Linked DNA regions of Homo sapiens. The protein of the gene in region 6 purifies or fractionates together with the protein of the main gene of each other region. This does not show direct contact. Each region holds a gene or a part of one and is shown on either strand. Other genes may lie near its edges. The genes, in order: FARS2, RNPC3, LARP1, PURA, UTP23, ZCRB1 and STAU2.

Region 1 (4,460 bases), on a different chromosome or scaffold from region 6:
CATATATACATAGAAAGGTTCAAGATGCAGATGGGCACACACACAAAATCAGTGTGCTTCACTATAACAATAACAAAATACACTCATAAAAATCATACCTGTCCTTAAAGTTGATGATATGGTTTGGCTGTGTCCCCGCCCAAATCTCAACTTCAATTGTATCTCCCAGAATTCCCACATGTTGTGGGAGCAACTCAGGTGGAGGTAATGGAATCACAGGGGCCGGTCTTTCCTGTGCTATTCTCGTGATAGTGATTAAGTCTCACAAGATCTGATGGGTTTATCAGGGGTTTCTGATTTTGCTTCTTCATCATTTTCTCTTGCTGCTGCCATGTAAGAAGTGCCTTTCGCCCACCGCCATGATTCTGAGGCCTCCCCAGCCATGTGGAACTGTACGTCCAATTAAACCTCTTTTTCTTCCCAGTCTGGGGTATATCTTTATCAGCAGCATGAAAATGGACTAATACAGTTGAAAAGGTCTGTACACAAATATAAATAAGTATAACTCCAGAGAGAGATGAGCCCTTCTAGGGTAGACAGACACTGATGGCTGCTGTCGCCACTGGGGCGTGAGTAGGCAGAAGAGCTAGCCTGCTACTGGCAAAGACATTTTGTTGGAATAAGAAGAATGAGCCACACTTGCGTCAGCCAAGCATGGGCTGGCATGGCAGATTGGAAAATGGAGAAACAGAGCTAACCCTCACTGCCAGCCAATTCTCCTTCATAATATTTCTGCTTACAAACGCTGGTGGTGGAAGAAGCTGGTAAGTGGATGGAAAGCAGAAAGAGATCCTGTGATCTCACATGGTTAGATCCCAAACTCTGCTGCAGGGCTAGATCTCACCATCAAGAGGAAAGCAGATGTGAAATTCAACTCAACTCCTGATTAGAACAAAAAGATCTGGCCTAGTCACCTTAGCAGCCAGAAGGTAGAAAGCATAAGACTTTCTGGGGATAAATTTTATCTACCTCAGTCTTTGTCCATTCAAACACAATTAAAAAAAAAACAAAAAGACAAGTGAAGCAGCAGGAAATATGTAAGCCATGATTAGGAAGGGAAAACAACCACAACAAAAGAACACTAGATAATCAAATGGTTGGAATTAACAGACAAGTACTTTAAAATAACCATTATGAGGCCGGGCGCAGTGGTTCATACCTGTAATCCCAGCACTTCGGGAGGCCAAGATGGGCAGATCACCTGAGGTCAGGAGTTTGAGACCAGCCTGGCCAACATGGTGAAACCCTGTATCTACTAAAAATACAAAAGTTAGCCAGGCATGGCAGTGTATGCCTGTAATCCCAGCTACTCGGGAGGCTGAGGTGGGAGAATTGCTTGAATCCAGGAGGCAGAGGTTGCAGTGAGCTGAGATCATGCCATTGCACTCCAGCCTGGGGAACAGAGCAAGTCTCCGTCTCAAAATAAATAAATAAAATAAAATAAAATAAAATAAAATAACCATTATGAATATGTGAAAGAATTTAAGGAAGAATGGATGAAATGGATGAAAAAATCAAGCATTTCAGTAGATAAATGAAAACTCTAAAAAGGAAGCAAATGCAAATTCTAGAATTGATAAATACAGTTATCTGGGGAATGATTAATTCACTGGATGGGCTTAATGGTTACTTGGACAAAACAGGAAAAAAAAAAAGATGAGCAACCCAAAGAGAAGACAATAAAAATTATCAAAAATAAAGCACACAGGAAAAGAAAATCGTTAATTAAAAAAACCTTTCATCAGAGTTCTATGGCATAGGATCAAATGGTCTAACATATATGCAGCTTCATTCTGAAAAATGAATGGAGTAGAATTGTTGGAAAAGATACTAGATGAGGGCTGGGCGCAGTGGCTCACTCCTGTAATCCCAGCACTTCGGGAGGCCAAGGCGGGCGAATCACAAGGTCAGGAGTTTGAGACCAGCCTGGCCAACATGGTGAAACCCCGTCTCTACTAAAAATACACAAAATTAGCTGGGCGTAGTGGTGGGCGCCTGTAATCCCAGCTGCTCAGGAGGCTGAGGCAGGAGAATTGCTTGAACCCAGGAGGCGCAGGTTGCAGTGAGCCAAGATCGCGCACTCCAGCCCAGGCGACAGAGTGAGATTCTGTCTAAAAAAAAAAAAAAAAAAAAGTACAAAATTGGTTCTCTGCTTAGACTAATAATATTGACAAATATCTTTTCTCTTGCATAAAATTTCTGAAGGTTTATGAACCCCTTGTGTGTTTATGGACCTCTATTTAGGAACTTCTTTTTTTTTGAGACAGAGTTTCGCTATTTTTGCCCAGGCTGGAGTGCAATGGCACGATCTCAGCTGACTGCAACCTCTGCCTCCTGGGTTCAAGTGATTCTCCTGCCTCAGTCTCCCAAGTAGCTGGGACTACAGGTGCGTGCCACCATGCCCAGCTAATTTTTGTATTTTTAGTAGAGACAGGGTTTCACCATGTTGACTAGGCTGGTCTCGAACTCTTGACCTCAGGTGATCCACCCGTCTTGGCCTCCCAAAGTGCTGAGATTAAAGGCATGAGCCACCATGCCTGGCCAGAACTTCTTTACAAATTCACATTATTTAAAATTCATGCAGCCATAAAAAAGAATGAGTTCACGTCCTTTGCAGAAACATGGATGAAGCTGGAAACCATCATTCTCAGCAAACTAACAGAGAAACAGAAAACCAGACACCACATGTTCTCACTCATAAGTTGGAGTTGAACAATGAGAACACATGGACACAGGGAGGGGAACATCACACACCGGGGCCTGTTGCGGGGTGGCAGGCAAGGGGAGGCAGAGCATTAGGACAAATACCTAATGCATGTGGGGCTTAAAACCTAGATGACGGGTTGATAGGCACAGCAAACCACCATGGCACACGTATACCTATGCAACAAACCTGCACGTTCTGCACATGTATCCCAGAACTTAAAGTAAAATGAAAATAAAATAAAATAAATAAAATAAAATTCAGTGGCTTTCAAGTACATGATCCTGTCGATCCTTGACAGCCATTTTTATTATTATCTATTCAGTTCTTGCAAGTCATCTTACCTGAAACTTCACCTTCTGATTAATGTTGGATACACAGAACTGCTTCAGGAAGCGCTCGTCCTCACACCAGAAGAGACGGATATCAGGGATGTCGTAGAGGATCATGGCTAGCCTTTCTAATCCTAGGCCAAAAGCCCAGCCGATTCGGTCTTGAGCACCAGCTGTGATTAGGAAACAAAATAGTTGTTTTTAAAAAGTATCGAGATTGGATAGGTTCATACCACTCCCTGACAGTTATCAGTGACACTAATTAGATGCCTACCAGCGGGCAAAGGCACTGGGCAGCCGCTACAAAGACATCCATGAGGGTGCCCAATCTTCCACGCTTTCTCATCTCCATATTCCGGACTGCCCTCATGAACGGATTCTGAAGTCATACTGTCTGGAGTACTGTCTTTCATTTCTGATTACATTCTAGGCTTTCTGAAGCACTGGTTCCTGAACTGAGTTATGATTTTTCTGTAGTCTTTGCTTGCTCTGATTCAAACATTTAGCCCACTGAATATAGGTTACAGAGTGGAAAGAAAAGACGGTCTCTGTCCTTAAGTGTAGTAGATAATGAGATACATTCAAAACATGCCATAGTGGCCATAACATGTTTAGAACGAACTTACATGAAGAAAGTACATACGTCATGCCTTTAAGAACCTCAGTTTTATTAAACACCATAATGCTTATTCTTACCAACAGCCACTTCAGCATTGCAGAGAACACAAGCAGGCCCAGACGAGGGGTATAACTAGCACCACCTACTCCAAAGGTACAGTGTCCTGCTCAGATTGTGTCAGTGCCATAAATTAGAAGGGTTTACTTCACAAACTGAGGCAGTGTAAAAGGGAAGATAGAAACTGCAGAATGAAGGCAGGCAAAGGAGCAGTTCACACTGCAGGAAAGCTTATGAAATGAGCTCATGAAAGGATATAATTCCAACTGGACACTAACAGATGAGTAGGATCCTGTGGTAGGCTGAGATGGCCTCGGAGACTCCCACCCCGCATGCACATGCCTTGTGTAAACTCCTCCCGTTGAGTATGGGTGGGATCTAGGAACACAATGGGAATTTAAGCCTGTGACTGCTTTACTTTTTATCTAGGACTCCATCTTGGCCGATTGGAGAGAGATCCACCTCCTGGCTGTGAAGAGGCCACATGGCTCGGGCCCTTGAGAAGTCCTAAAGGAGCTCAGAGAGGCACCAGCAGCCAGGGAGAAAATGGGAACTTCACTTCTACAGTGGGACGGAACAAATTCTCCCAATAGCTGGAGTGAGCTGATGATAGCACCCCAGCTTCAGAGTACACAGCCCTGCCTCTGCCTTGATTTCAACCTGGTAAGATCCTGATCAGGGGACCCTATCAATCCATAGCCAGGCTCCTCATGCAAGGATATTATGATATAGTCAATTCGTGCTATGT
Region 2 (4,460 bases), on a different chromosome or scaffold from region 6:
ATAGCATTAGTTTGTAATTGCAAATAAAATCCTGAGTAAAATATTATTTCAAGTTTATTTTAAATTTTAAAAGTTAACACTGATAAAGGACTCACTACACTTTTGATATTCAATAAAGTGAGTGACTTAGACTTATTAGTTTAATAAACTTTAATGCTCTAATATAGGTACTACTAAATTATTAGTTTACACATAAAAAGACCGAGGTTCAGCGATGTCAATAATTTGTATAAGGTCATTCTGTAAATGACAGAGAAGGGATTTGATGACTCTTGATTCTAAACACCAGGATATTTATTAATATGCAAAACAGTGCATTCTATGTTTGATATTTTAAACATATCTATATAATATTAGACTTTGATGACTTAAAATTGTCAATAGTCACATTAAAACCATGAAAAGAAACAGATGAAATATTGATAATATAACGTATTATTTCTCATTATATCCAAAATATTATTTCAGCATATAATCAATATAAAAAGTTATCAAGATATTTTACATTATGTTTTCATACAATTTTAATGTGGCTCACATTAATTTCTACTGTTCAGTGTCACTATAAAGATTCAAAGGGAAAAAAAGGTAAAATACTCCAAATCAAACATGTATAAAACAAGTATCATTTTACTGGCAACTTCTGGACTATAACAAAATGTCCAAAACACAGTGGAAAGGTAAGGTATATCTACTAACATTCTTGGATAACTACGGTCTGACCCTTATCCCAAATCTGCAAATTATTTAGGAAGTTTATTACAAGATAAAGTAGTGCAAAAGGAATTCTTAATTTTTAAAAATATCAATGGCATTCCAATGGCTTCTTCAATAAATTCAAACTCCATCGCCTAACATTTAGGGGAGGTTTCACATCCTTCTAGCTTTCCCTTTCATCATTTCTATTCCTATTCAATACATTTTCCTACCTCTGGAAACTTTCCTTTTATTCTTCCACTCACATAGGATACAGTTTCCCTGCCTAATTTTTGTCTCCCCTCCTTAAAGGGCCAGCTCAAATATCTCCTCTCTCTTACAACCTTTTCAAATTTCTCAACTGGCTGTGACCTCTCTTTTCTCACAACCTTTTAGTTCTTAGTTTATATTTCCTATGTCATGTATTATAATTGCTAATGCAATAATCATCTGTGCATTTGGCTTATTATACTTAAGACTATTAACTCACTGTTTGAAAAGACAGCATTAAACTTTAAAAGCATGCTTCAAACTACACACAATATTTAGCAGAAAACCTTACCATACACTCAATAAATACTTAAAGGCACTCGGGTTAGTCCTGTGTGCCAAGTAAAGATATGTGAATTTTTATCTGCTGGGTACTTTTTAAGTAAAAAATGTTTGATATCAGGTGATGGAGTTAAGAGAAACTAAATAACTGTATATAAACACACTGATGTTTATATTAGTGACATTATTCACTAATATATTACACTAGTGACAGTAATGTCACTAACAAAACTGTAAATGCACGAGGAGAAAGAGAAAAGAAATGATAAAAGGAAAGTAAATGAATTTTGTTTTCGACAATATCTTAAGTGCCTATAAGATATTCTGAGTCTGCAGACAGGAAGCTGGAAGCAAATACCTTAAGGCTTACGACAGAGAAGAGAGTAGTGGTCAACTGTGAGAGAATTATGAATATTTGTAAATTTGGTAACTAGGAAGCCAATGTAAACCAAGAACACTGACAGGAAACAAATGCCAGAATGAAGAATGATGTGAATTAAGCAAGTAAACAAAGTACATACAGACAACCCTCATTTCTTAGTTCAAATAAAATTACCTGTGTGAAGGACACAAAGGTGTATTCAACATATCCTTTATTTTTCTCTTTTTTCTCACATGGCGCTGCTTTATTGTTTTAGGTCTTTTGGGCTGAAGATTTGCTAGTTCCATTAATTTGTTCATTCTACAATGAGGAGAGGGATGATAAACAAAATTTCCTTTCTAGAAGCATAGCTATTTACCACTGTTTCTATTAACGTTAAATTTGTATTTTGGTGTATAATTTAAATTATAAAATGATTTACTTACATCAAATATATAGAACACCATCAATTAAGAGATAATCAATTTGATAAAAGCTCAAATACTAAATTGCCTTGCTTAGCTTTCATCTTACTTAGAAAAAATTAAAAATAGACTTAATTACATATTATCAATTTTTAAAATGTATGTTTCATCATAAGCAGTTGCCGAAATAAAATGGCTGGACTTCATGCCAAACGGCTGAACAAGATACAATAATAAAATCGATATAATATTAATGTTCTTAAATCATTTTTATTCATATTCTAATTATTAAACGGAGCCTGGACTGAAATATGTCATTTAAAAGCATTTTGTGAATAACTGTTGCAAATCATTATATAAATAAGGTAACTTAAATTACCTGAGAACTGTTTTCAAATACTGTACTATGCTCTGAAGTAGTTTCAGGAAGTGACAACACCTGTACATAGCTTTTCTCTATTAAGAATATGAATATTTAATATTAAAGATAGATCTTGTCTAGGCATTTCTGTATCATCTACAGAGCAGGAACTTGGAAACCGCTAGTCCCAGCTCTACTTCTCAGGGTGGTATTTGTAAAATACACACACAACAAAATACAAAAGAGAGGAAGGAGGGCATTGTTCAAATAAGCTTTAAACCTTTTTTCCCTGAGGAAAAATGAAAACATATGCTGTAATTTAAACCCTTTTAAAAAACCATGGTTTACCAAAAACTTTATGAAAAAATTTAGTTATTCAAAGTATATGTCCATATTTATAAATTGCTGACCCAAAGTACACCAAGCCTCTACAAGAGTGCTAGGCATATATTCAGTAATTATTGGCTGAATAAATGAATAGTACAGGTTGAGCACCCCTTATCCAAAATGGCTGGAACCAGAAGTATACCAGTTTTGTAATATTTGCATATACGTGAGATCTCTTGGGGATGAGACACAAATTTAAACACGAAATTCATTTAAGTTTCATATACAACTTATACACAAAAGACTGAAGATAATTTTATACAATATTCTTAATAATTTTGTACATGAAATAAAGTTTGTGTACATGGAAACATCAGAAAGCAAAAGTGTTGGCTGGACATGGTGGCTCACGCCTATAATCCCAGCACTTTGGGAGGCCAAGGAGGGCGGGTCACTTGAGCCCAGGATTTTGAGACCAGCCTGTGCAACATGGTGAAACCCTATCTCTACAAAAATATGAAAAATATTATATTAACCAGGTGTGGTAGCACATGCCTTTAGTCCCAGCTACTGGGACTGATGCGGGCAGATTGCTTGAGCCCGGGAGGTTGAATATGCAGTAAGCCATGACTGTACCACTGCACTCCAGTTAGGGCGAAAGAGTAAGACCCTGTCTTAAAAAGAAAAAAGAAAGAAAGAAAACAAGCAAAGGTGTCACTAAGCCAGCCATATGTGGTATCATACTGGTACTCAAAAAATTACAGAGTCTGAAGCATTTTGGATTTCAGATTTAGTTTAGAGATACTCAACCTGTACCATTTTTCTTTTGTTTAGGTCTTGTTACATTTCCTGAAGATAAAAGAGAAGCATGAAACTAGAGCTTGGTACACTCAAAGGCTATGTTCTCTCTCAGGACTCAAGATGAATTACTGGCAGAATTCCTCACTACATCCTTTAATGGAAACCTAAGTAAACAAACAAAAAAGGGTTTGGCCAGGTTACTGTAGCATTTCTAATTACTATCATTATTTTTATAAAGAAAGTGAAGTTCACAGAGGTTAAGTAATTAGTCCGCAGTTAACACTCAACAAGTTAAAGTAACCATCTATCAGGCACTGCCTGTTTCCCTAAATGTCTCTTTTTAAGACAGATAGTGTATTCACTCCCATTTTATAGTTTCAGCCCCACCTATGCTTTGATTTTAACTCTTCCCTTAGAAAGATAATATACTGCACATTGTACCACTACTTGGGTGGACACTGACTCAGTCAAATTGCGATTATTTGTATATGTTGCTCAGAGTCTGCTTGGGTTCTGCCTCATGCCAACCACTCACACCTCCTATATACCACTTCTTCCGTGCACAGTCACCTAAGATTTTGATCATTTTCCCATTAGAGTCCTGCAGACAGGGGTTGACAAACTACAGCTCAATGACCAAATCCAGCTAGCTGCCTGTTTTTGTAATTAAAGTCTAGTTGGAATAAGGCCACACCAACTCATTAGGTATACTATCTATGGATGCTTTCCTACTACAAGGGTAGAACTGAGTAGCCACAACAGAGACCACATGACTCTCAAAGTCAAAAATATTTACTCTTTGGACCTATAAAGAAACAGTTTGGCAATTCCTGTTCTGAGCCAGGCTGTGGATTATATACATGACCATTATTAACAATGTACTATTCTATGTCAGAATCCTTAAATAAAATGCATAGATTGTCAAGAACTATCAATA
Region 3 (4,460 bases), on a different chromosome or scaffold from region 6:
TCTGTCTCAAAAAAAAAAAAAAAAAAAAAAAAAAAAACAACAACAACAAAACAGAATAACTCCATGATGTATTTTATCTCACCAAAAAACAAAAAAATCATCTAGAAAGAATGACCAACCAAGTAGCAATAAAGCACCCCTATAACTCAGACTGGTATCTAAATACCATTTCCCAAAAGAAAGGAACTAGAATTCCTTTTAAAAGTGGCCAATTCCAGATCTGGGGCAGGAAATGTATAGGGTCCCACTGACCAAAGGTGGGACAATTTGATCCAATCCATTAACTGCAATGGACCAAAATAAATACGTTTGAGCCCATAAGCTTATAATAACAAATGATACGAAAACAAACCACCAAATCTCACTGGTCACCTATGAAACCTATTAGAGATCAACTCATAATTATGCAAACTGGCTAACAAAGGGAGGAAGATCAAACATTAATCTGCCCTTCCTGAACAAACTATACCTCTTGGTAACTGAACAGTTGATGAGGCAAAGTTACTTCTTGAAGAGGTATTCCACCTAATAAATGAAGACCGACTGACAGAATTAGTATATTGTCATTTTGCAATCCTAACGAACACTGCTGGCAGCTTATAGCACAAGAGAGACAATCAAATGAAATGTTATGTGCCACCTGAGAGAAAATACATCATTATGATAAAGTATTCTTGACAAGGAGGGGAAAAAACTTCAAAACCTGAATCTGATCAGGCCTCTAGATCACAATTTACAAAAAACTTGGAGTACAGATGAACATGTTAAAATGACATCCCTGTGCCCTGTGGAAAATCCTACAGGATGTACAACTTAGTCTATTCAAATAATAAACGGCAAAGAAAAAGAAAAATAGAGGCAAGAGGAGACTTAATAAGACAATACACAGGTCTTGTTAGTTTTTTGTAGAGACAGGGTCCTGCTATGTTACCCAGGCTAATCTTGAACTCCTGGGCTCACATGACCCTCCCCTTGGCCTCCCAAAGTGCAGGGATTATAGGTGTGAGCCACTGCACCCAGCCTATAGGTATTATTTGGATTCTGATTCTCACAAACTATATATATATATAAAATATATATATAATATATAAATACATAAAATATATATATAATATATAAATATATAAAATATATATAATATATATACTATATATAAATATATAAAATATATATATAATATATATACTATATATAAATATATAATATATAAATATATAATATATATAAAAATATATATAATATATAAATATATAATATATATAAAAATATATAATATATAAATATATAATATGTATAAAAATATATATAATATATAAATATATAATATATAAATATAAATATATAATAAATATATAATATATAAATATATATAAATGTATATTTTATATATAAATGTATATAAAATATATATAAATATATATAAAATATATATATAAATATATATATGGCGCCAATTGGGATGAATCTGAACTAAATATTTGATGATATTAAGGAACTGTTAATATGTTAAACTGTTAATTTAGGTATGATAATGATACTGTGGCTATTTTCTTTTAACAAGTCTATCTTTTAGAAATCTATACTGAAATATTTGTGAACAAAATGCTAGGTTTTCTAGGATTTTCTTCAATGTAGTATGTGAGAATAAACAGATGAGGGTACAGATGGAATAAGATTAGCCATAAACTGATACCTGCCGAAGCTGATGATGGGCTCATTATACTACTCTACTTTTGTTAAGTGTCTGACATTTTCCATAATGAGCAAGAGAGGGAGAGAAAGGAAGGAAGGAGGGAGAGGAGGAGACTAGCCAAGCCTTGAGACTTCAGCAGAAGTCATCAGATGATGACTCTTCCAGGGCTTTCTGCCTTGGCCCAAACTCCAGCTCCCTAAGGACCTTTCTTTCCCCTGCATCCCAGCTCCAGGGAGGAAGACATACCGCAAAGATGAGTGAAATGTCAGTGGTAAGGGCCTGCACTCGGTGGAAGGAAGCAATAAGGGTGATGGGTAGGAAACCATCAGCATCCATTTTCCTTCGCAGGAAGAAGTCTCGCTCTAAATTGTCCACGCTGAAGTAGTATTCACTAAGTGGAGGGAAGAAGTAGTTATCACCGAGGGATTGGTGCATCAGTTTTATGAGTATGCCTTCCTTGTTCTGCTACACACCCCAGCAATCTCACACAGCCTCTGACCTACCCCATCCTTATCCTATATACCAACAGTGTTGAGGGCTGAAAAGAAATGATGTGATCCCTTCATGACACCCTACCTTGCTTGGGTCAAATCACTCCCTCTGCCCTAAGCCCCTCGACATGCCTGTCAAACTCCTCATCCTCCTTTAAATTCCAGTCCAAATATTGTTGGTCACTTTCTCTTCTGCTCCTAAAACACTTATAAACACTCTATTGCAACCATTTATTTTCTTGTATGACTTCCTTACTGGACTGAGAGACAATATATCAGAGTGGTTAAGAACAAAGGTTCTATAATAGGACAGAAAAGGATTTAAATCTGTGCTTTGTTACTTACTAGCTGTGAGATTCTGTGCAAATTACTGGGCCGGTTTGCTTGTCTATAAACTGGGGCTAAAAGACTCAGCTCATAGGAATTCAACAGATAAGAACTGCAGGACTAAGATAATGCCTCTACAACAATAAACACTGAGCCTGGCCGATACTAAGGATTCAATAAATGTTAGTATTCTGTCAATGTTGTCATTACAAATGGAAGAACAGAAGGGGGTAGATTCTAAATATTTTCCTTCCTTTTTGTAATGGTATAGTTTCTAACTTTCTTAAGGTAAATGTTGTACCACTTCTGTAATAAACAATGAGAATGTGGTATCACTTCTTTAATAAACAATGAGAAAAGCTATCTTTTCAGCCTGAGGCTGAAACTGCTGCTAAGCACCAGAAGGGCCTGCCCAGCTATGACACTCTAGCAACCCCTAACCTCTCACTCATTTCTCCAGGGTAAGAAGGCTTCCGCACACTCACATCTGGCGCTTGATGTAGTCTTTGAGCAGTTCCTGATCCACACTGTAAAGCTCGGTGCTGCTGACATTGTCAAAGTAGTAGGTGATGTTGTTCATGTACTTGGGCGTACGAGGCCCCTCCACACCATCAAACTTTCGGTAGCCAAACTGGTAGTCAAAATGGGCTATGGGGGAAACGGGTGCCATGAGGGAGAGGAGATTCCTGCCCACCACCCCTGCTGCACACCCTTGGACATCCCGGAGCCCAAAGGGGCCTCACGTACTTCGAGTGCCACCCCGGCCGCGTCCCCGGCCGCGACCACGCCCCCGTCCACGGCCACGGAAGGAAGCCCGCGCCCCACCAGCCCCATCACTCTTCACACTCGATGTCTCATCCTGGTCGTGCCAGGCAGGCTCCGGTTTGATCTCTGGTTGCCAGGCTGGGGTGGGGGGGGCCACGGGCACGTAGGTGGCAGACTCAGACCCTATGGGGAGAGGGGTACCAGGTCAGGCCTGAGGGTGTCTCCCAAGTCCAGGCCCTCCATAGTGGGTAGTGCATACCTTTGATCTCTCCGCGATTGGCAGGTATGTGTCTAGGCTCCGGTGGGCGAGTGGGGCGTGAAGCCAGTTTCTCTCTGGGCACTTCAGGCTTCATGTCTATTTGTAATGGAACCCACTTGTGTTTGTTTCCTGGGAGACAGCATGGGTACATGAGAAAGGCTTGAGGGAGAGGCCACTCCTAGCCAGCTCTACCCAACTCCTCTTCTTCTGCCCTGGACTTGGGCCCAAATCACAATCTGGTTACCTTGGGCAGATCCCTTTCCCACACATTAGCCCTCTTTTTCATCTCTAAAATAAGCTGGTCAGTGGCCGTCAGTGTGTTAGAGACTCCTCGTTAACTCCCAAGATCAGTGTCTCCATGGCCACAGAATCCCCTTCTGGAGTCAGACACATGGCAGCCCAGGATGAAGACCATGCTTTCCAGAGTCCCTATAGACAGGTGCCAAAACACTGCCTACGAGAGCTAAGCTGAAGTAACCAACTCCAGGTTGAGTCCCTAAAAGGAAAGGGGCCACCCTTCCCTCTTCCTTTCCTCCTAGCTAGAAGAAGAAGGAAATAGGAAGCCATCAGTGATGATATGAAGAACCGGTGTACCACAGCAAGCTGAAGGGATTCAGGAGTTGCCATACCAGGCCTGGTGTATTTACACCAAGCTGTTACATCAAAGAAAGAAAGTTTTATCTTGTTTAAACCATGGTTACTCTAGATCAGCATTAGAGAAGCCAAAATTTCAGCAGGTTTTTTGAAAGGAGGGACTGATTAATGACAGATGGTTGAAGACTGCTATCTCACCAGCCTACATCCATCAGTTTCCCCATTGACTTTTCAGAGGTGGCACCTAAAGCTCCTCCAGCAGTCCCCTGGAGTCCTGACATTTCACAGTTCTACCCTGCCACCTTCTCCCAAGTCCTGCTCCCAGTCACTC
Region 4 (4,460 bases), on a different chromosome or scaffold from region 6:
AATTTCACTAGATAAACCTAAAATCTGAACAATGGAAGTTAAACTTCTACCCAAAGTAAAAACAAAGCCATAAGATTCCACAATTGAATTGGCCACAAACATTCACACTATGTTATAAAGGACTTTCTCATTTCAAATACATCACTGAATGTTCAACAGAATTTGCAAACATAAGATCCAGAATGACTAGCAAAACATGCTAAGAGCATGTCAAAAAGTAAAACACCACCTCTCCCCCCCCAATCTGGAAACACACTCAGGCATTCCAAAAATAAACCAGATCTGAAAAGAGGCCTCTCACTTGGTTTTAAGTATGAGGTGTGTACAAAGCTATGGGAAAGGGAATATAAAATGAAATAACCAAATAACTTACAAAAAATAATTTTAGCCAAAAACACATCTCTCTGTTCCATTGATAAAACTATCAATTTTTAAATTTTTTTGCAATTCTGAACACTGTGTTGCATAATATCACCAAGACAAAAAATATGTTCACAGGTACACTTTTTGTTATTTTCTTTCTAGAGCACATCTTTGAGGTCATAAGACCGCATCTGGTTAAAATAAAGTCTCTTGCCCTTGCTTCCCTTCCCCCTCAAAGTGATTCAACCCTGAATTCCAAAAAGGAATATTCAATATAACAACTTGAAAACCAGTTGTAACACTTAGACCATAAGGAAACTATATGAACATTATGGAAAACTACATGAAAGAGGGAGCTGCCACTTGCCACCCACTTCACTTCCAGCTTTTTAAGCATGTACCCAGCTAGACTCCTATCTCACTGACTTCAGTGAAACAAACTAACACACCAAATCTAGGCCATCTCAGGCTGGAAGTTAAAACTCGAAGACATCATTTCATATACACATACATATATATTCCCTATCCTAAGCTTTAACTTTGTCTATTTAAACAGTTTAATAAAGCTCACATTTACAAAGGATTTTATTGGCAAATAAAGGCCCATATTAAAAATTTTATCAGAACAAATTTTTGTTTTATACAGCTAACATTAAGAAATATTTTCTTGGCCTTATAAAATATTTTTAATTGCATATAATTTTTGCTTTGGGTGGAATATTGAAAACACAATTCTGCAAGAAATTAGAAAAGACTAGAAACAAAAGTGAAAGTGACTAGCCTTAACTTTCAAAAAATCAAGTGCAAAGATAAATAGTGCAAATAATGAAAACTAGAAATTTTACAGGCAACTTTAGTCTTTCCTGCTTTTGCACTTTTACACATTGACAACTTTATAAACCCTAACAACTATATGCAGCATGGAAATGGGCTATCATTTATCTCCACTGACTAGACTTAAGCCTTTCAAGGACTTGTCTCACAGTCATTTAAATCACAAGTTCTTGACACAGGTTTGGGAATTCACTTCTTTTTAAACAAATTTCTAAGGGAGGGGCTATTTAAGAAGGCTTTGCATTGACTTAAATGAGTTATAGTATATAACTATTATAATTTAAAATCTGACACAATAAAATGTGAAAATTATACTAAAGTGCCAACTCTACAAAATAAGCTATAGTAAAAATAATCCTGCTATTGTTAATGAACCTGACATTCGTAAAAAAGAAAAATTACCTTCAAAGTACAAAATCAGAACCACTTTTTTGCTATTTTTAAAAGAGATTTTTATCACTAATATATAGAGATGTGAGTAAAATGAAACTTCAAAGTAATCTGTCCAAATCACCAGGAATAAATCCATACTAAATTTGACAACAAAGAGTTAATCCAAACATACTTGAATTATGTAACTTAAAAACAAACATTACAGTAATTATTTATCTTAAATAATTTAAAACACTACTGGAATAATGGGAACAGAAATCTAAACACTATCAGCTTACCCTACAAAGGATATAAGAACCTCCAAAATGTACTAACTTATTTTATTAACATTTGCCACCACTGAACTCTTGGGAATACTACAATTTTAAAGTAAGAGAGAAAGTAGGGAAACAGAAACATGAGTTTGGGGGGTATGTTGTCTAATTTTAGAAATACAGTATTATTGAGGGCCTCATAAGGTCTACAAGGTTAAATGGTTGCTACGGATGCAAATGTAAAAGAAATAAAAAAGACACCTAAAATTGCAAGTTAGTGTTTTTACCTGGTTTATTGTCTTCTAAGAAATTTGTGTGGGCCAAAGTCTCAAAATTCTATAAAAGCAAGGAATAATATGTGTCTTTGTGGAGTACAAAATCAAATAATTTGATCTAAGGACCATTTGAAAAGTAAAGGTAAACTACATTGTAACAAGAGCCCAAGAAAATAGATAGTATGTGTGATAAATATTTCTGATAGTTTAAAAAGAATAATGGTGAAAAGCTTGAAATTTTCTTTTCCTCAAAATAATAACTCCCCAGCATCCACTTGCCTTGACCAGAAAAGCTGTCATTCCACAATTGTGCTAATTTGTCCCAGAAAAGCAGACATCCTATACATGAAAACAGACTTGTATAATGCATGATCATTATCATAACTCTAGCTATAGTAACTAACAGCTTTCTCATAATCAATGAGGGACCCATTTTCTCTGGCTTTATTGAAACTTCCTTAGTGAAGATCAACTTCATTTCCTTAGCAAATAACTCTCATTCGGACTCCATCATAGTACCTTTTCCTACCTCTAGTAAAAATTCCTCTCACTTTATTTCCAAACCATTCTCTATATACCTCTCAAACCCCCATCCACAAACACATTAAACAGCTCTCCTCGTCCTACTCTCCAATTTCCAAACCAGTAAGTCTCAGTTCCCAGTAACTTACCTAAAATACACATACTTCTTACTCTCTTCAGTTCACAAGTTTCTTAACATTAATTTAGATACCTTCAAACTGCCAGCTTAAGACTATGGGGAAAATAGCAATCAGAAAAAAACTGCCCAGTTACCTCATAATACTGAAATTGTTCTGGATCATCAGTTAGCTATGTTCTAAGGCAGGAGTCAGAAATTTCTTTACTTCTCTCTGAAGAAGTAAGCTTGAGTGCCACTGGTAGGCCTACAGCAAGAGTAAAAGTGGAGAGAGAAACAAAGAAAAAGGATAGGAGAGAGAAGATGCCAGATGTACATGGTAAGGAGGTAGGTCAAGTACCACCACCAACTACCTGCATTTAAAATTGCCAATCCACTCCAGCTGAATGGGAGTTTGACCCAAACTCAACATGTGTCTGATAAGTCATTAGCTGATGGCTATCATTGTTTGAGCTAGTCAAGATGAATAGGTAATTCACCTGTCCCATAACTTTAACTGCCACTTCACGATAAGGACATATTTTCTTAAATCCTCCTAGGATCCTTCTGTGTTAATAATCTACCTTAGACCAAAACACACACTAACAAGAGTATTTCCATGTTTTTCACAATTCTAAAATAGAAGGACTTGGTCCTTGAACTTGGAGGCCTCTTGAATTATTAAAGTGGAACCAAAATCAAGAAAATTAAACTCTTTAGCTTAAACATTTTTCCATCTAATGCTACAAAATAAGCTAATTGCTAATAATTATCAAAACAATGTGTGTATTTATGAAAACATGAAAATCCTGTGATTCCAAAATGAGTGAAATACTTCTGATGTGTAAGAAGCAACTATATTTTACATAGAGGATCACCACCATGTTTCTGCCTATCAACAGGACAATCTTCCACAAAAGCAAAGGACATCAGGAAGGAAAAACACAAAACAAAACAAATACCAAACGTGGGGACAAAATAAAAATGAATGAGTAGTTATGACATTCTTGTTAAGAAAAATGTTAACAAGTGACCTTTGCCACACTCAGCTTTCCTAAAGACATAAATTGCCTGGACCATTCAACATCAAAACTTGGTAGTTAGCTTAGCAGATTCATTGGCTTGAAACCAATCATTATTTCTTATTTCATCTGGTTGTTCTTTTATCATGAAATTCTACCTGACTCATGCTAATTCTGGCTTATTTTCACTTAGCCTGTAATGAAATTTCTGTTCAAAAAGGACGTGTCAAATGGCCTATACCTTAAATTTAGGTTTTCAGGATCAAATAACTTCTTAAATATTAATATTAAAATCAGCTTTTCTTAATATATCACAAAATCTGCAAAGAAGATTCTATAATAATTCGTGAATAGCAGTGATCACTTTAGTTTTATAGCATACTTATGAATGGCCAAAATTTGGTTAATATGCAATGAAGAAAACAGAAATATTGTGATTTAAAAATTGATACACTTTAACAAATCTACACAAATAACTTTGGTGAATTTATCTATGTAAGCAATTCCAATAAATTATCTCTCCTACTTATTCCACTCTCAAGGAGATGTGTGTATCTATATACATATACACACACACAATGTATATATACATATATATGTGTATGTGTGTGTATACATCTCTCTCCAAATTATGAAGATATTCAAATTTAGGGATAATAAACTATAAATGTTATACTCAGAG
Region 5 (3,790 bases), on a different chromosome or scaffold from region 6:
TCCAGAAGCTGTCAGTCAGGAACTACTGATACGATTTCACTTGTCCAATAATTTTATACTTCCATCTTGTAGTACAAAAACATTTTAATTTTGGCCTGATAAATGACTAAAACAATTGCCGGGGGAATTCAGAGAGACACGTTTCATTATTCAATTCCTAACTGAATTGACCCTCATTGATCCTCAGACTAATTTAGACACTTTTCAATAACATTCACAGTCAATCTCAAAGAGAATATTATTTTTGAATTCTTGCTATTGAAGTTAACATTTACATCTAAAAGAAAATCATCATCCTTATTGGACAAGTAGAACTCAAACAAACAAACAAAAAAACTCTAGTCATAATAATGAAAATACTGAGTTTCTGATGTACAAAGAGTAAAATATTCATATACTGGAAAAATGGTGCAGTATAAATGGGCAAAATTTCACTCTTTCTAGTAGGAAGTCAATAAATAATTGATGTATCAAAAAGTAGCGGTATAATCATACAATTTGGAAATATAAATTCTTCAACTACTAGAATTGAAAGAGGAAGTTTCTTCTGTCAATGTGAAAGAGGGACTGCCTCTTTTTTTGTCACAAGCCTTTTAGAACTGTAAGATTTTTTAAAACTGTTTGCATATAATGTTTGAAGGTGGGAATGGGACCAGAGAGGCGACAATTTTACCTGGAGAAACAACCTCCCGAAACCATTTAGTAAGTAAAGTGAATTCCATCACACCTACACCCATTCACTGTTTTTATTTTTTTTTTGAGACATGTTCTCACTCTGTTGCCCAGGCTGGAGTGAAGTGACACGAACTGGGCTCACTGCAATCTCTGCCTCCCAGGTTCAAGCGATTCTCATGCCTCAGCCTCCTGAGTAGCTGGAATTACAACTGTGCACCATCATGCCCAGCTAATTTTTGTATTTTAGTAGAGATGGGGTTTTGCCATGCTGGCTAGACTGGTCACTGTTTTTATTTTATAATTAATTTTAGCTAAAGCATATGGGTTCATTTACAAAAATAAGTTTGGTCTTTTATTATAAATACTTCTAGTTGTAAAAAATTCATTTTCACATTTGAATGTCCTTGAAAGTATCCAAAGGATTCATTCTCCTTCTGCATTCTGCTTCTCAGAAAGTACTTTTGGGTTAGATCTGTTCCGAATTCTTTTTCTTTTTCTTTTCTTTTCAGAAGCAGATGATTGTGTGTCCGGTGCCTTTTTCTTTTTCTTCAAACAACTAAGAGGATTGGGACCACTTATTTTCTTGCGCTTTTTTCTTCTACTCTGTTCAGTGTTTTTCACTAAACCCTGTTCCTCTTTGAGATGTTTGATACTTTCTTTCTCATGCACTGAGACAAGCTGACCTGACTCCACTGCTTTTACAAAGGCAATTGTTTTGGGAGAAGGTTTGTCCAAAACCATAGTGTTCTGAATAATAAACATGAGAGGAACTCCAGGCTTCTTTTTTACTTTCACAGACAAATTCTGATCCTATTTAAAAGAAAACAGAATTATTTAGTTCAAATGTCAATTAAGGTACCTTAAATAGGTTTTCAAGAACTGTATTAAAAATAAAAGAGATCACAGATTTTATTTTTCAAATGAGTAAGCCTCACTTATTCATTTGAGTAATGGGGGTATATTTCATGATAAAGGAAGAAAAACATAAAAACTGAGCACAGTGTTAGTAGCAGCTGTGTGAACCGGATTTATCGATACTCTAGAGCCACAAATTACAAACTAATGCAAAGGTAAATGTGTTAGGTGGGTTTCTCCTGTTTCCACTCTAAGATATTCTTTGGAAAGGGTCAAGAATGCTTAAAGAGGTTAAAGGAAAAGAAACTGGGTAGTAATTAGCTACTCAGATTCTAAATTCAGCTCTACCTCTGTGTAATTTTATAATTCTGATAATCAAATCTGTATGTATGTGAACTTAATATCACCCCCAAAAGTCTCTCTTCTCCTGCCTTCAAGAAGATGGGAATATTTTTCTTCAAAAGCCTGAAATATTTCATACTGTTGGTACAGTCTTAAGCAGTATGAACCATGACTTTGAGAAACAGTATGAAATACAGGAACATGAAAAAAATTAACAGAATACAGGCACTTTGCTCTACTTATCTTCCCTTCAAGAACCCTACAACAAATCATCACATCTCATGTCAACAATTTCTTGTTTTAAAAAAAGAAACTTCTGCCAGTGTCCAGCATGATGGCAAACACCTGTAATCCCAGGTACTCAGGAGCTGAGGTGGAAGGATCACTTTAGCCTAGGGGTTCGAGACCAGCCTAGGCAATATAGTGAGACCCTCAAGTCTCAAGAAACAAACAAAAAAAGCAAAACAAAGGAATCATTAAAAAAAACAAAACCCAACCTTCCACTACTAAAAAGAATATCAACATGCTTAAAGTTTTCCTCAAATTCTCAAATGACAATTGCTTTTACTGACTGCAAATTAACTTAGAAGCCTGTATTTTTAAAAGTCTAATCATTCTAACTTTTTTCTGATTATAAATAGCTCCATATGAAGTATAAATAGAAATGGTGAAAATTGCCTGTGGTTTTAAAAGTAGTATCACCTGTGTTGCCACAAAATAATGATGAGGATTTCCCTCTTCAACCATGGAAAGCAGACATTCTGATCCACTCACTGCATTCTTGAAATGAGGACAATTTCGAACTTGGCATTTTTGTGCAATCAGTTTTGCCCCATATAAGTCCTTTCCCAATGTTTCTAGCTCTTTTAACACACATCTGAAAAGAAAAATTATAGCAGATACATTTCACTTGTTTACATAAGGTGTAAAAAACAATAGTCGATTTTTTCTTAAAATAAAACTATGCTGTTACAATCTAAATTTGTCATCTGGTAACCATTTACTTTAAAAGATCACTTGAAAAATGCATTTACCAAGTAGGAAGAACAACAGTTAAAATTAACTGAGCACTTATTATGTTCCATGTAGTATGCAAATTGCTCTTTACATAAATTCTTGATTAATCTCAAAGTAACCCTATGAAGTTAGGTCGCTTACCTTGAAATTATCCTTATTTTAGAGCACCCCATTCTGAGATTTCAAGTAACATGCCAAAGTTCAAGTAACTAGCAAGTGGTACCGAGACTTGCAGTTTGACAACAGCTCCCTTGTCCCAACCATAGCGTAATAAGCTTCTGCTTCAAGTACAAATTGGTATACTTTCAAAACATTTTCAATTCAGAACAGTAAAACTTCTCACATCATCAAGTTGTTTTTAAAAAAACATTTAGTCATAAGAGTTCCTCAACCCTAGCCAGCATTTGCCAGATTCTTTCTTGCTTCATCTCCTTTATCATCTTTCTGTTTCAAGAAGATTTTGCTTGCTTTAGTCATTAGACTTGACCTCTATTTTGAGTACTGCCAGCCTGTGGATGTCCTGCTATCAACTCTTCAAATTCACCATGTCTAAGATCAAACCACTTTCCTGTATCCAAATTTATCCTCCAAGACTTGCTATCTCTTTGAAATTACTATTTTCCCAGACACCCTAGATAGAAATCAGAAATCACATTTGACCTTCCTGCCCTTCTTCACCCATACTCCTATGCCATCAGCTGCTCAACCTATCTATCTCAGTAACGTAGCGTTTCTTTGGAGAACCCTTGGGTTCCTGCCTTTCCTCTCCCAGGTTTAGGCTCCCCTTACTTCTTGATTAAACAACCGCAAAACAGATTCATGCCTTTGCTCTCTTGTTTCTCCAATTTACCCTTCACATCACTGCAGTTATCTTTTCTAAAATAAAACCCAGGCCTGATAA
Region 6 (3,215 bases):
TAAATTACCCTTCAGAATTGATCCAGGGCATGTATGCGATACCACAAGTGCTTTTAATGCCATCCTCACCAACACTGAAGTGTTTTTTTCCTAATTAGGTTAAAATTGATGTATCACTGGTTGTAATAGATTTCCTTAATAAGTAATGATAAACTTTTTTACTTTTTTTTTTTAAAGACAGGATCATGCTGTTTCCCAGGCTGTCCCGCCTCAGCCTCCCAAGTAGCTAGGACAACAGGTGTGAGTGGCTAATGTTATTTTTTGTAAAGACAGTCTCCTTATGTTCCCCAGGCTGGGCTCAAACTCCTGGCCTCGAACACTCCTCCTGTCTTGACCTCCCAACGTGTTGGGATTACAGGTATGAGCCACTACACCTGGCCTATTTTATCTTCTAACTATTCTATTTGTCACTAATTTATTTCCTATTAGAGTCTGTTTTCAGGTATTCATAGAAACTTTTATATATTTGTGGCAAATCTTTTCCCAATTATTTGCTTTAAAATGGTAGGCCGGGCACAGTGGCTCATGCCTGTAATCCCAGCACTTTGGGAGGCCGAGGCGGGTGGATCACAAGGTCAGGAGTTTGAGACTAGCCTGACCAACATGGTGAAACCCCCAACTCTACTAAAAAAATACAAAAATTAGCTGGGTGTGGTGGCACGTGCCTGTAATCCCAGCTACTTAGGAGGCTGAGGCAGGAAAATGGTCTGAACCGGGGAGGTGGAGGTTGCAGTGAGCTGAGATCGCACCACTGTACTCCAGCCTGGACGACAGAGTGAGACTTCGTTTCAAAAATAAATAAATGAATAAAAATTAAAAAAAAAAAACAAACCAAAACTGTTGTGGTATTTGACTAATGGCCAAACAGATGGTTGAGTACTGCATTCAATCATTGTCTTGTTGCAATCTGGAAGATTCTTTGCTGGTGGGTGGTTAACACTTTGTAGTTTTCAAAGTGGAAACACAAGATTTTATAATGAAATTTCAAATATCTTTTTAATATATTTTTTCTTGGGATGACAATAATAATATTACTATGATAGTATTAACTTATTTCTATTGCTTTTACTAGTTAAAAAAGTAATGGGCATTCTTACAAAGTTAAACAATATAGAAATATACAAAGCAGAAAATTAAAGGCTCTCTAATCCCATTACCATATACCCACCTGCAGACAGAATGGGAAGATTTAGTCATAAATACAAAGACAATACATGGAAAAAAAATAGACAATTATTAACTCTAGGAAAAAACGTAATCATAGCATATTCCTTGGCTCAGAAATGAAAAGTATTTACTTGGTTATTAAAAAAGATATATATGGATTCCCCCAAATTTTTAATACAGCCACATTGGGAATATTGAGGAAGGTAGGAGAAGTATAAGAGATTGAATAATTCTCCTTTATTCTTTTATTAAGTGACTGAAATATATGTACTTTATTTAGCTACATGTGTGCACATGTAAGTAGTTTCTTCTAGGGAATGGAATTTGGTGCTATGGGTAGGGCAGACAAATAACACCTGTGTTTGATTTTAAGCCTTTTAGAGCTATGTTACTTTATATTTTATAGGTATTTATAATTTATTTTATAGGTATTTACAATTTATCCAGATTGGGATAAAGCTACAAGAAATATGATGACAAAACACCCATATTTAAAGACAAAATTCTCTTGAAAAGTTTATTAATATAAGTAACAATAAATCATTCAACTTTTCGGTCTTCAGGAAGTTTGTTTTAAGGATTAATTTCAGAAGTCCTCATGTAAACAAATCAGGCATGAATAAAGCCCTTATAATGAACTTTTCAAATAAATTTTTAAAATATCTTTTTTCTTGGGATGACAATAATAGTATTAACATGATAGTATTAATTTTTCTTATTTTTATTAAAATTAGCTCTTCAAGATTGTTACTAACAAATCTTGATTTTTATTACTGTGCTGGGGCAAGATTTTAATCACTAAGTTCTTCCTCATCACTGAAATATGTGCTTTTCTTTATCCTTGGGCGTCTTGAATCATCTGATGTTGAGGGGACTCCTGAACTGGGTTTCCATTTTTTTTGTTCTTCTTCAATTTTGGCTTGCTGTGATTCAAAAAACAAAACAAAACCAATAACCTGTTTAATATTATTTATGGTTCATTAATTCAAAACATGGCAAAAACATACCACAAATGCCATTACTTCCCACCCTCCCAGTCCATGCAGACAATAAGATCTGCTCCCTTCCCCTGAGTTCTGTCTCATCTCAAAATCTTACACAAAATTATCCTAGGCAATTTCTTAAAAAAATCTTTTCTGTTGGGCTATATTCACTTTGAGCAAATAGTTCTGCTCATTTCTTTAATGAAAAAAGATTAAGATAGTAAGTGTTGTGGGGCCCTTAAAATCTAGGAAGAACCAATGGGAACTTTTCATTCACACTGGCTAAGTACCTCAGAGAAACAGCTTGTCTCCTAAGGCTTAGGAGGTTAGGGGGAAAAAGAGAGGTTGCCATGAGGTGATCAATGAAGTAAGCAAGCACTATAAACCAAGTCAACTATTGTATGATGCCTTTTAAAAGAACAATTTAATACCTGGAATGCTATGGCCTGACTGAGGCTGTCAAGAGCAGGATCCTCCCCTTCATCTTCACTTTCTTCTACTTCCTCACTTAAATAAAGAAAAACAAATTGGAATGTAACCAACCAATAATCAAAAGCAACCAACCAAAAGACAAAAGCAACATGATGATGTATTTAGTAAGAATAATATACATACATTTCTTCTTCTGGTTCAGGAGCTTTCTTTTTTTTCTTTTTTTCTTTCTTCTTTGGAGGCTCACGTTCTCCGAGCATATTTTTCGGACAGGCATAACTTAAGTGTCCACTTTCCTTTTGTTTCCCATTAAAAAGGAAAGGAAAAATACCATATTTGATGTTATTTATAAAAACTTGCCTGGTACCTTATTACTAAAAAGTTTTCAAATTTAAAAAGGAATATTCCCATACTGGGACTATACAGAAGACATTAATGATAAAACCCAGTACTTTAATATTTAGAAGGTGATATTATAACTCTCAGTTATTTTAACATTTAGGACTATTTAGTAGTTTTACTAAGAGTAGTGGTAGTAGTCTTCTTTCAAACATTTAAATCTCAAAATTCAAGATATAAAACAGTTTGGTCGGGCGCGGTGGCTCACGCCTGTAATCCTAGCACTTTGGGAAG
Region 7 (4,460 bases), on a different chromosome or scaffold from region 6:
CGCTAACTTCAGTGGGGTGGGAGCTGTGTGGCCATCTCCCTGGATACTGTTATAGGTCGAATTGTGCTCTTCCCCCAAATTCATATGTTGAAGTCCTAACCCCCAGTATCTCAGAATGGGGCCTTATAGAATGTGGCCTTATTTAAAAATAGGATTAGTACAGATGTAATTAGTTAAGATGAGGTCATACTGGAGTAGGGTAGGTCCCTGATCCAATATAACTGGTATCCTTATAAAAAGAGGAAACTGGAACACAGACCCACACAGGGAGAACGCCACGTGAAGATGGTGGTAGGGGCTGGAGTGATGCCGCAGCAGCCAAGGAACACCAAAGATTGCCAGCAAAGCACTCGAAGTGAGGAGAGGGGCCTGGGACAGATTCTCCCTCACAGCCTTCAGAAGGAACCAGCCCTGCCAGCACCTTGATCTTGAACTTCTAGCCTCCAGAACTGTGAGACAATACACTCCTGTTGATGAAGCCACTCAGTTGGTAGTACTTTACTACAGCAGCTCCAGCAAACTGTACAGGGACCTCATAGCTTCTCTTTAAGGATAGCAAAATCTCTCTCTCTCTCTCTCTTCTCTCTCTCTCCCTGTATTATTTTTTGTTATAAAAATAGTTTTTTGTTACAGAAAAGTCAGAATATATAGACAAGCAAAAAGAATGTAAAAAGTATCCACAATCCTGCTCACCATTCACATCTTGGCGCACGTCTTTCCATATCACTTGTTTTTTTTCTCTCTTTTTTTTTGAGATGGAGTCTTACTCTGTCACCCAGGCTGGAGTGCAGTGGTGTGATCTTGACTCACTGCAACCTCCACTTCCTGGGTTCAAGCAATTCTTGCACCTCAGCCTCCTGAGTAGTTGGGATTACAGGCATGAGCCACCACACCCAGCTAATGTTTGTACTTTTAGTAGAGACAGGGTTGCACCATGTTGGCCAGGCTGGTCTTGAACTCCTAGCCTCAAGTGATCCACCTGCCCCAGCCTCCCAAAGTATTGGGATTACAGGCATGCGCCTCTGCCCCCAGCCTCCATATCACTTAGTATCCTCTCCCCATGTCTACAAACTGTAGCCTGGATCATGTCTTAACACTGTAGGTAACCTGCTTTTTTTTTTTTCAATGATAAATAATAATTGTACACATTCATGGGGTGGGTAACAATGTTGCAATACACATAATGCATAGTGATCAGATCAAGGTAATTAGTACATCAATCATCTCAAACATTTATCATTTCTTTTTGTTGGGTTCATACAATATTCTCCTTCTAGCTGCTTGAAACTATAGAACATATTACTGTTAACTATAGTCTTTCTACAGTGGTATAGAGCAATAGAACTTATTCCTCATATCTAGCTATAATTTTGTATCCTTTAATAAATTTCTCCCTATCCCTCTCTTCCCCCTACCCTTCCCAACCTCTAATATCCTCTGTTCTACTTTTTACTTCTGTAAGATCAACCTTTTTAGCTTCCACACATGAGCAAGAACAAGTGGTGTTTAACTTTCTGTGCCCTGCTCATTTCACTTCACATTCGCCCAGTTTCATCCACATGGCCATAAATGACAGGATTTCATTCTTTTTTTACGGCCGAGTAGTATTCCATTGTATACATATACCATGGTTTTTTGTCCGTTCATCTGTTGTGTGCTCTTTTCATTGAATGTGTGCAGTATCAACAGAAACATTTCGGTAGCATCATTTCTCATGACTGCACAGTATCCTATCGATATCCTGTGTGATACCAACACTGCATCAAATTTCCTATTGGTTCAATCTTTATGCATCATCTCAATACTTTCCTTATGATAAATTCCTAAAATTGCATTTCTGAGCCAAAGATGATGTCCATTTTTAAAGATTTTTTTTTTTTTTTTTTTGAGACAGAGTTTTGCTCTTGTTGCCCAGGCTGGAGTGCAATGGCGTGAACTCGGCCCACCACAACCTCTGCCTCCCGGGTTCAAGCGATTCTCCTGCCTCAGCCTCCCGAGTAGCTGGGATTACAGGCATGCACCACCACGCCAGATTACTTTTGTGTTTTTAGTAGAGATGGGGTTTCTCCATGTTGGTCAGGCTGGTCTCGAACTCCCGACCTCAGGTGACCCGCCTGCCTCAGCCTCCCAAAGTGCTAGGATTACATGCGTGAGCCACTGTGCCCAGCCTTAAAGATGTTAATATGAGCTCTCTATCCACCCTTGGAGAGGTTGTGCCGGCAGCAGCAGTGGGAGGAGGGTGTTACTCTAGGTGCTTCTGGAATTACCTCTCAGAACCATTTTGTGGGTCAGAGAAGCAAACCAGTTTTGTCATCTTTTGGCCCCACCTTATTTTAATGTGTTCATCCTGGTTGTTGACCTTCTTCACTAGACTTGGCTTTGTCTGAAGTTTTGCTGTTTTCAAAAATTAAACTCACCCTCAAAAGACTGAGGTTTGGACAGTTCTCCCCACCCTCCCTGCAAGAAAGGAATTCACAGAGGAATTTGACTCTCAGGGAGCTTTGATTCAGTGACTCTGAGGTCCTTTTAAGTCCTGAAGTGCTAAGGCGGCTATGCTGAGGGCAGTGCATGTGCCCACAGCCTGTGTCCATCAACCGGGGCCCACTGTCCCACCTCACACATGCGCGTGGGGCGCTAAAGGCCAGGCTCACTCACTTGTAGGCTCCAAGGACCAATCCATGCCAGACCTTTTTCCAGATATTCCCATTTTCACGGAGTGGGCTCATGAACTTCAAGTTCTTTGTATATTCAACAGTTTTAACAAAAGACCAGTTACTTTTCTTCTGAGCCATTAAAATGTGAATTATTGGCATAAATTCTGAAATTTATGAATTTCTTCCAAAGTGGACAATTACATTTGAAATTTTATTATTTTTTGTAACATAATGATAAATTATTTAACATTTTCTGTGATGACAACACCTGAAATATACTCTCAGAGCAATATCAAAATGTGCAGTACTCAACTGTTAGCTATATTCACCACACTGTGCAGTAGATGTCCAAAAAAATCAAACTTATCCTTTTTATCTGACTGAGACTTTGTACCCTTTGACTATCATTTTCCCATTCCACCTACCCCCAGCCTCTGTACCCACCACTGTACTCTCTGCTTCTGGGAGTTCAATTGTTTTATATCTCACATATAAATGAGAACATGTGGGATTTGTCTATGTTTGGCATATTTCACTTAGCATAATGTTCTCCAATTCTATCCATGTTGTTGCAAATGACATAATTTCTTCCTTTTTAAAAGCTGAACATATTCCATTGTGTCTATATACCACATTTTCTTTTTCCATTCATCCATTAATGGACATTTAGGTTGATCCCACATCTTTGCTATTGTGAATACTGTTGCAATAAACATGAGGGTGCAGATATCTCTTGACACACAAATTTCAAACTTTTTAGGTAAATACCCAGATGTGACAGTGCTGGATCCCAAAAGCACCATCACAGAGGGCTACTGAGAGCCAGGAAATGGAACTGTGCAATGTGATACTGCTGAATGGGGTTCCTACGAGCTCTAGGGCTTCTCGGTCCTGTTTTATTCCTAGCAAGGGCAAAACAACAACTAAAAACAATTTTTAAAAATCTTTTAAAAAATCGTTTTTAGGCTACTTATAGCCTGTTTTCACTAGGTACACTGGGAATACTTGGTTCTTAGTGTGGCCTGAACACCAGAACCAAATGACCTGCTTCACCCAGTCCAGGACCCATGGCACCTGCTCTCTTCCATCTGAAGAGAACTGCATATATGAGACGAAGGCCAGGTCTCAGGGAGCAGCTTCAGCGTTTTAGCTCTTGCAAAATCTCCTGGACGATTTTATCAACATGCCAGGCAGGTCCCCCGTGCACTGTCAAAATGATCGTCATCCCTCCAAGAATGTCCTAGAGTCTGGAATGGCGGCGTGCTCTCTCACTTGATGCCACGAATGGATTTTCAGAATTCTTGCGTGGCTGCTCTCCTCCACAGGTATGCTTAAAAGCTTCCAAGGGGCAGTCCCTTATCTACCTGATCAGATAACTCAACCCACATCTCACTGATAACCCTGAATACAATAGCTTATAAGTATGAGAGGGATTTCTTTTCAATTTATAAGAGGCAGTGGTGACCGATTTATCTTAACCTATGTAAACAGTAATAGCTACCATTCGATGAGCATCACTCCGCCATTGTCATGGGACTGGCCCTTTACCTGCCATGACCTGAGTTGTTATCACAGCCTTGTGAGATAGTTCCTACCCATAAGGAAACAGAGGCTCAGAGAATTCAGTAACCTACTTAAGGTCACACAGCTAATAAGTGGCAGAGCAGAGATTTGAAACCAATCTATATTCTTGCTCAGGTCTTTTTTTTTTTTTTTTTTTTTTTTTTTTTTTTTTTTTGAGGCAAAGTCTCACTCTGTTGCTCACGCTGGAGTGCAGTGGTGTGATCATGGCTCGCTGCAGCCTAG

The links.
Region 1: the proteins of ZCRB1 (region 6) and FARS2 purify together in Homo sapiens (co-immunoprecipitation; 3 studies listed by BioGRID and IntAct, with this or other methods). This does not show direct contact.
Region 2: the proteins of ZCRB1 (region 6) and RNPC3 purify together in Homo sapiens (affinity purification with mass spectrometry; 2 studies listed by BioGRID and IntAct, with this or other methods). This does not show direct contact.
Region 3: the proteins of ZCRB1 (region 6) and LARP1 purify together in Homo sapiens (affinity purification with mass spectrometry; 2 studies listed by BioGRID and IntAct, with this or other methods). This does not show direct contact.
Region 4: the proteins of ZCRB1 (region 6) and PURA purify together in Homo sapiens (affinity purification with mass spectrometry; 2 studies listed by BioGRID and IntAct, with this or other methods). This does not show direct contact.
Region 5: the proteins of ZCRB1 (region 6) and UTP23 purify together in Homo sapiens (co-immunoprecipitation; 3 studies listed by BioGRID and IntAct, with this or other methods). This does not show direct contact.
Region 7: the proteins of ZCRB1 (region 6) and STAU2 purify together in Homo sapiens (affinity purification with mass spectrometry; 2 studies listed by BioGRID and IntAct, with this or other methods). This does not show direct contact.

What each region holds. Positions count from the first base shown.
Region 1 is NC_000006.12:5,543,929-5,548,388, reverse strand, and holds part of FARS2 (phenylalanine--tRNA ligase, mitochondrial), read right to left. Parts: intron 3,210-4,460; coding exon 3,049-3,209; intron 1-3,048. UniProt on the Homo sapiens protein: Is responsible for the charging of tRNA(Phe) with phenylalanine in mitochondrial translation.
Region 2 is NC_000001.11:103,538,820-103,543,279, reverse strand, and holds part of RNPC3 (RNA-binding region-containing protein 3), read right to left. Parts: intron 1,931-4,460; coding exon 1,805-1,930; intron 1-1,804. UniProt on the Homo sapiens protein: Participates in pre-mRNA U12-dependent splicing, performed by the minor spliceosome which removes U12-type introns. U12-type introns comprises less than 1% of all non-coding sequences. Binds to the 3'-stem-loop of m(7)G-capped U12 snRNA.
Region 3 is NC_000005.10:154,792,799-154,797,258, reverse strand, and holds part of LARP1 (la-related protein 1), read right to left. Parts: intron 3,665-4,460; coding exon 3,536-3,664; intron 3,460-3,535; coding exon 3,259-3,459; intron 3,160-3,258; coding exon 2,997-3,159; intron 2,085-2,996; coding exon 1,940-2,084; intron 1-1,939. UniProt on the Homo sapiens protein: RNA-binding protein that regulates the translation of specific target mRNA species downstream of the mTORC1 complex, in function of growth signals and nutrient availability.
Region 4 is NC_000005.10:140,120,138-140,124,597, reverse strand, and holds part of PURA (transcriptional activator protein Pur-alpha), read right to left. Parts: 3' UTR 1-4,460. UniProt on the Homo sapiens protein: This is a probable transcription activator that specifically binds the purine-rich single strand of the PUR element located upstream of the MYC gene. May play a role in the initiation of DNA replication and in recombination.
Region 5 is NC_000008.11:116,769,151-116,772,940, reverse strand, and holds part of UTP23 (rRNA-processing protein UTP23 homolog), read right to left. Parts: intron 2,750-3,790; coding exon 2,575-2,749; intron 1,486-2,574; coding exon 1,099-1,485; 3' UTR 1-1,098. UniProt on the Homo sapiens protein: Involved in rRNA-processing and ribosome biogenesis.
Region 6 is NC_000012.12:42,311,109-42,314,323, forward strand, and holds the end of ZCRB1 (zinc finger CCHC-type and RNA-binding motif-containing protein 1), read right to left. Parts: intron 2,879-3,215; coding exon 2,766-2,878; intron 2,658-2,765; coding exon 2,582-2,657; intron 2,091-2,581; coding exon 1,959-2,090; 3' UTR 978-1,958; downstream 1-977.
Region 7 is NC_000008.11:73,425,059-73,429,518, forward strand, and holds part of STAU2 (double-stranded RNA-binding protein Staufen homolog 2), read right to left. Parts: intron 1-4,460. UniProt on the Homo sapiens protein: RNA-binding protein required for the microtubule-dependent transport of neuronal RNA from the cell body to the dendrite.